Linked DNA regions of Homo sapiens. The protein of the gene in region 1 purifies or fractionates together with the protein of each later gene. This does not show direct contact. Each region holds a gene or a part of one and is shown on either strand. Other genes may lie near its edges.

Region 1 (3,812 bases):
GGGACTGTGTGACTTCCCTGAGGCCACGCAGGCTCAGTGCTCAGGGAACCTCTAGCTCCACAGTCAGGAGAGGGACAGACCCCAAGCCTCAGTCTCCTTTGTCTTTGTCCTCCAGCCCCCTCACACCTGCAGACAGTCCGCACAGGGTGGCTGACATTCTCAAACATCAACTAATGACTTAACTAAACACCCAGGCTCGGAGAGCCGATGACCTATACTTTTATCAGGCTATTTAAGAACTTATAAAAGTAACAATCCACTAGGAAAGACACAAGAATAGACTTAAGTAAGTAGGGATTTGCTTGGCCTGTCCCACGAGTCAGTGTTCTGGGGGACATGGGCCAACACGTCCTTCTTCCTTTCCCAGGGCTCATCCTGGAAGAAACCCCAGAGAGCAGCTTCCTCATCGAGGGGGACATCATCCGGCCGGTGAGTGCACACACTGACGTGTGTGGGTGCGGATAAGCCCACAGTTGGCGACAGGTCCTCTGAGCCCACCCTGGATGCCATGGGGCCTGATGTGTGAGGGACATACATAGCTTGGTAGATGCCTCTTTTTGTCAAGGTCAGAGCGACTGTTCTGTTAGGAAATAGGAATAAGCCAGCCTGAATGCTAAGGAAGGCTGGTATCTGAAGTGCTGGCACAGTCAGCCTGAGAGGGCTTCCTGAAGGAGGAGGTTTGAACACTTGACCCAGCTTGGTACCCTGCCCAGGGGAGGTGCTCAGCACTCGGGAGGTGCTCAGATAAAGGAAGAGATGAGCAAGGGTTGGCAGAGTGGCCAGTGGCAGATAAAGGGCCTGGTGGCAGTGGCGACCTAGGGATGGTGGAACAAGGAGTGATGTTGAGCCTGACCATCTTGGCTGTGGTCGAGGGGCCGCATCTGAAGGGAGAAGGTTGCTGGGGATTGGGGCGCCTTGCTAACAGAAAAGGGAACACTGTGCCCAGGATGGCAGCCATGTGTTTCAGGCAACTGCGAATGGCAGAAGGCTCCTGAATAGGACAGTGACCCAGGGGAAGGCAAGACTGTCCTGTTGGAGGCTGCCACTGACGGCACAGCCTCTGGCTGGGCAGGAGAGCCAGAGGCTGGCCCAAGGCTGCCCAGGAACTCCGGGGGCAGGGCAGACCCTCTGGGTTATGCAGTGAGTGCTCGGGCAGGTGGTGTGCGACCACCCGGAGCAGAATCAAATGCCTCCAGCCGATGGCACAGGCACGCTGGGGTGCTGTGGAGCCTGGGCACCGAAGGGCTCTGGTTGCTGGAGAGCAGAAGTAAGCAGCCGAGGCCAGGGTGCTGCCTCACTTTCACTCCATATGGCTCTGTTCCCATGATCGTCCCATGTTCAGGGAAGCCTGGTGGCTGTTCCCCTCTGGAAGGGGCACTGTCAACATGCTGGAGTGGGGCTGCTGGCCCAAGCCCTTCTGATTCAGGGCACCCTGGGGTGCTGGGCCTCCTAGCCAACATCCTCAGGGACTAATCTCTTGTTTGCTTGAGATTGAAATTCTTTCATCATAGGCCAAGGGACTGTCTTGTGCATCAAGGTTCATGTAGCTGGCCCCTTGCCTTCCACAGCTCTGTCCCATCTCTAATGGTCCCCCATTCCCATGCACACAGGTCCTGACTCCCACATCTTTGGGGTTCTGGTGCCCTGGGGTGTGGTACCCTTGGGGCACAAAGCTTGGGTGGCCTCTGTCCCCAGGGGTTGAACTGCTGCTCTCTCCTCAGAGTCCCTTCCGACTGCTGTCAGCAACCAGCAACAAATGGCCCATGGGTGGTAGTGGTGTCGTGGAGGTCCCCTTCCTGCTCTCCAGCAAGTACGGTGAGTGAGCATGGCGCGCTCCCTCCCTGCCTCAGCCCCTTCTTCCTAATGCGGCAGGTGTTCCTCTCTTCCCTTTTCCTCTTACACCATCACATCCCTTCCACCTCCCCACCCGAAGAACCTGTCCACAGATGCCCTTCTGTTGCTGAAGGTCTCCTGAGTAGGGAGGGTTAAAATCTGATGGGAAGGTATGTCGAGTGGGGATCTGGTTCCCCTTGAGACCATGCGGTGCAGAGGACAGTGACCTACCCAAGGCCACACAGCCAGGGTCTGTCTGGGGCCCAGCTTCTTCCTGGCACCACTAAGCTGCCCTTTCTTGATGCTATTTTGGGAGAGTGAGTTCAGAGCTCTGCTCCCAGACCCTCAGGTAGAGCTCAAAGACCACCAGGGCTCTGGGGGCTCAGCCAGGTGGTGTCTTCCAGATGAGCCCAGCCGCCAGGTCATCCTGGAGGCTCTTGCGGAGTTTGAACGTTCCACGTGCATCAGGTTTGTCACCTATCAGGACCAGAGAGACTTCATTTCCATCATCCCCATGTATGGGTAAGTGCCGGGGCCAGGATGCGTATCTCAGCTCGCTTCTGCGTTCAGCCCGGAATTAACTTGGCCATTGTCTAAAATGTATTCCTGGGCCCATCCTCCAGGGCTCAGTCTCCCTGCCCACCCTGAGGGGTCTGCCAAGTGTGAGCTGGACCTCCAGGGCGGAATGTGGGAAAGGGATGGGAACGGTGCTAGACCCTCCATTTACAAAGCCCTCCTCTCCCGGGGGACTCCATGAGGTGGTGAGGAGAGGAGGTTTTGCGGGGCAGACAGTGCGTGAGTCACTGAGTCCTGGCAAGTCCCCTAACTTCTGAGCCTCTTCTGTCCCCTCTGGGGTGCGAGTGGTGGCGATACCTGCTTCCTAGCTTGTCAGGGGCCTGAGGCAATTTGTGTGAAAGCCTTGGCTTAGGGCTGACCAGGAGGGTGTGCTCACTTAGTAAGCTGCTTCTGTCCTCTGTGTTCATATATCAGTTTCTGCAGCCTCCCTGCAGCCCAGGCTGGTGATGGGGGTCCGGTATGGCCATTTCACAGAAGTCCAGGCAGTAAAGGGGCCTGGAGAATGGTGAACCTGAGACTAGAGCCCAGAGTGGGGCCTGCCTGTTGGGAGTTTGTCTATCTTGTGTTGTGTGGGGAGGGAGAGCCCAGGTCTGTATGTCCGGAGGGATCTGGGCTGGCACTTACCCCACTTGCTCTCATCACCCTGCAGGTGCTTCTCGAGTGTGGGGCGCAGTGGAGGGATGCAGGTGGTCTCCCTGGCGCCCACGTGTCTCCAGAAGGGCCGGGGCATTGTCCTTCATGAGCTCATGCATGTGCTGGGCTTCTGGCACGAGCACACGCGGGCCGACCGGGACCGCTATATCCGTGTCAACTGGAACGAGATCCTGCCAGGTGAGCCAGGCCACACGCAGGACAGGCTGGTGCCGGGGAGGGGACAGCACGGCTTGGGCCCAAGTCGCCTGGTCCCCATGGGTGAGGCTATCCATCCTCCCCATCACCTGCCTGCTTCCTGTGGGGAAGGTGGGGGTCTCACTTCTGTCTGGTACCTGGTACCTGGAGGTGGTACTCTGGGTGCTGCTCTGGGCCCCAGGCCTTCCTCTACCCACCTGTAGTTGTGCCTTAGCTAGGGCGCCACCACCTGCTTTGTCTCGCTTCTCATCCCTGACACTGTCCTCTCCCTGGCGATGGGGCAGGCAGTGCCCATGATACCTGCTTGTTGAGTACTCTAGCAGCGGTCTCATGTACCAGATACCACCACCATGGACTGGGGCTGTGTGCCAGCTTGGGGAGCTGAGCCAAAGTGGGACCCCAAGGTAGCAGGCTGCACAAGCCAAGTGCTGGGCCACGGGCTGAGGGCAGCACTGTGGGGCTGGGACATGTGCCAGTGGTGCCAGTGAGCAGGCAGAAGGAACACAGACTGTGGCCATGGGAGAGTGGAGGCTGGAGGCAGGTGGGCTGTGGTT
Region 2 (3,812 bases), on another chromosome or scaffold:
GAGGAGATTGCGCCAATGCACTCCAGCCTGGACAGACTGAGACTCCGCCTCAGAAAAAAAAAGGGGGGGAGGGGCTGTTTAGTCCAGTATCCCCCAGCAAGGCCCATCACAATATATACTATAAGCATTAAAAGTATTTATGGAATAAATTAACTCTGCAACTACAAAAAAGGTGATGAGCTTTTATATACCAATTAGACAACTGTATTTGTATAGAGAAGCTAACTTTCCCTTTGCCTGAACTTCTAATTAAGAGGTCCTTCTTTACCAATTGGGAGGAAAAGACGGCAAACACCTTGAACTGTCCGGTGAGGCTTCAAAACCTATGTCCTAGAAACATCCACGTTACACTAAATGTTTCCTTTTATACCATATTTTTAAGAATAATGTAAAAAAAAGGCTGGGCGCGGTGGCTCACGTGTATAATCCCAGCACTTTGGGAGGCCGAGGTGGATGGATCACCTGAGGTCAGGAGTTCAAGACCAGCCTGGCCAACATGGTGAAACCCCGTCTCTACTAAAAATACAAAAATTAGCCGGGCATGATGGAAGGTGCCTGTAATCCCAGCTCCTCAGGAGGCTTAGGCCGGAGAATTGCTTGAACCAAGGAGGCGGAGGTTGCAGTGAGCTGACATGGCGCCATTGCACTCCAGCCTGGGTGACTGAAACTCCGTCTCAAAAAAACAAAACAAAACAAAAAAACCCCCAGAACTACAACTGAGAGGAACTTAACTGTTTCACATTATGATTAGGACTGAAATTAGCTACCTAACACTTGTTTTACAGGACTTACCTGAGTACATAAGCTTCCTGCTTGTCAGTTTTTGTCACACTTATGATTGAACATTGCACATCCTTCAAAAGTATGTCCCACTCAGATCTATCATTTAACAAAAAAGTTACGATTAATCCACAATAGTACCCACCTACTCATAAAAATTACAAAGCTCACACTTTTTCTCATGAAGACCACATTTTTAATTAATATTGTACACCAACTTTTAGTTTCTTTCAAAATAATCTATATTGACACACCCAGATAAATGATAGGTATATTATGCTATATATGAAACAAAAATTGGTCATTATACTATGTATTTACAAATTACTTAAAGAAAAATAGGCAAAAAAATGTTCAAAGGTCCATAAACCAAGGTAAACCATTAACTAATCAATGATTACAGAAATTCAATGGGATACTTTGTCTATAAAATGTGCAGATTTTTAACCTTAAGAAACACTTAAAAAAAAAGAAGAGCATAATTTTACCAATCTAATTGGCATAGAAATTTAAAAGCCTGTCTGTCGGGACACAGTGAGTGATGTTACTCTTATAGCACTCACAAAAAACTGGAATGACTGCCAATTACAAGCATACCTAGAAGATTTTGGGAATACTACGCAGCTCTCCAAATGCAATGAGAAAGCCCGTTTAACAGGAAATGTGCAGTACAAGCAACCATAGCAATGAAGGTCATATGGACATGAAGAAACTAGTCTTAATTTGCCTGAGAATAGAATTAGGAAAGTGTTCATTCTTTCATTAGTGTGCCCATTATAAAAAGACAATGTAATTCCATGGAACAGCTTAACATGACAGATATTATTTTTTGAGACAGGGTCTCACTCTGTCGCCCAGGTTGAAGTGCAGTGGTGCAATCACAGCTCACTTCGGCCTTGACCTCCCAGGCTCAAGCAATTCTCTTGCCTTAGTCTCTCAGGTAGCTAGAACCACAGGCATGTGCCACCATGCCCAGCTGTTTGCCAGAAATATTTTTTAGGCCAGGCGTGGTGGTTCACGCCTGTAATCCCAGCACTTTGGGAGGCCAAGGCGGTGGATCACTTGAGGTCAGGAGTTTGAGACCAGCCTGACCAACATGGTGAAACCCTGTTTCTACTAAAAATACAAAAATTAGCCGGGCGTGGTGGCAGGTGCTTATAATCTCAGCTACTCAGGAGGCTGAGGCTGAGGCAGGAGAATCGCCTGTAATCCTAGCACTTTGGGATTGGGATGGCTTAAGCTCAGGAGTTTGAGACCAGGCTGGGCGATAGAGTAATACCCTGGTCTTTAAAAAAAGAAGAAAAATTTTTAAGCCTTATGATATCTGACAGGCCATTGCTCTACACTCATAAAAATGGCAAATCTTTTTTTTTTTTTTTTTGAGACTGAGTCTTGCTCTGTCACCCAGGCTGGAGTCCAGTGGCATGATCTCTGCTCACTGCAACCTCCACCTCCCAAGCAGCTGGGATTACAGGCACGTGCCACCACACCTGGCTAATTTTTGTATTTTTAGTGGCGACAGGGTTTCACCATGTTGGCCAGGCTGGTCTCATACTACTGACCTCAGGTGATCCGCCTGCCTCGGCCTCCCAAAGTGCTGGGATTACAGGCATGAGCCACCGTGCCCAGCCGGCAAATCTTTTGTTAACCAGATAAGACCTTTTGAGCGAAATCCAACAGCAAAATGTTTTTATTCGTTTGTATTAAAAAGCAAACACAACACCAAACATGCCTGGTAGAATTTTGTGCCTGTCTCACCATTTTGCTACAAGAAACTGTTACTGACCCATCTGCGTACCAATACCCATCCAAAAATCTTTAATGTGAAAGGCTTGCTAATGATTACAGAGCTGAGTTCCTGTATTAGACTATAACATGACTAAGCAACTTTTTTAAAAGAGCTACTAAAAAGTTTTAAGGTTCTTTAAAAAGGGTGCTAACAATTTGTTCATATATGGAAAGAATACATATGTGGGATATATACTGTGACAACCCTTGAAATTACCCCTGGCTTGTGTGGTGGCACACGCCTGTAATCCCAGCTACTCGGGAGGCTGAGACAGAAGAATCACTTGAACCCTGAAGGTGGAGGTTGCAGTGAGCTGAGATCTTGCCACTGCATACCAGCCTGGGCAACAGAGGGAGACTCCGTCTCAAAAACAAACAAACAAAACAAAAACAACAAAAACTTGGCCAGGCACAATGGCTCATGCCTGTAATCCCACCACTTTGGGCAGCCGAGGCGCATGGATCACCTGAGGTCAGGAGTTTGAGACCAGCCTGGCCAACATGGTGAAACCCCATCTCTACTAAAAACACAAAAAATTAGCTGGGCGTAGTGGTGGGCGTCTATAATCCCAGCTACTCTGGAGGCTGAGGCAGGAGACTGAATGCGGGAGATGGAGATTGCAGTGAGCCGAGATCGCACCACTGCATTCCAGCCTGGGCGACAAAAGTGAATCTCCATCTCAAAAAAATAAACAAACTACTCGTGGGAATGAAATCCTGCTTCACTTGACTAAGATAAATTTACAAAATCCTTGCAAAAATTATCTACTATTAAGACTCCCATTCCTGAATATGAAGGTAAATAAAAATATCCACTATGATTTAAGTATTAGAAACATTACAATTTCAGATTTTTAAAGAGCTTATCTAATTCAGGTCCATCAATAATGCTACCTGCTTAAGTCATCACCTACTGACTTCCCACTATAACTTATTCTTGCACATACTCCTTTTTACCCACTGGACGCACTAACAAATCCCACCCTCCCTTTCTCAGTTATATTCACCATTTCTATTAAGACTTTTAAACACGTTCCATGGCTGAACTAAACAGTGTAACAGTCTTTTCCTTTCTTATTTTTGTTTTCTCTTTTTTTAAAGGCTGTTGTGGCCAGGCACTGTGGTTCAGAGGCCAAGAAGGAAGGATCACGAGACCAGAAGTTCAAGACCAGCCTGGGCAACATAGCAATAGCCAGTCTCTTAAAAAGAAAAAAGGCAGCTGGGAGTGGTGGTGCAGGTCTGTA

Evidence for each region.
Region 2: the proteins of ASTL (region 1) and AMD1 purify together in Homo sapiens (affinity purification with mass spectrometry, with the first as the bait; one large-scale study listed by BioGRID). This does not show direct contact.

Annotation. Positions count from the first base shown.
Region 1 is NC_000002.12:96,131,968-96,135,779, reverse strand, and holds part of ASTL (astacin-like metalloendopeptidase precursor), read left to right. Parts: intron 1-367; coding exon 368-429; intron 430-1,721; coding exon 1,722-1,815; intron 1,816-2,237; coding exon 2,238-2,355; intron 2,356-3,058; coding exon 3,059-3,240; intron 3,241-3,812.
Region 2 is NC_000006.12:110,884,572-110,888,383, reverse strand, and holds part of AMD1 (S-adenosylmethionine decarboxylase proenzyme), read right to left. Parts: intron 880-3,812; coding exon 793-879; intron 49-792; exon of another isoform or gene 1-48.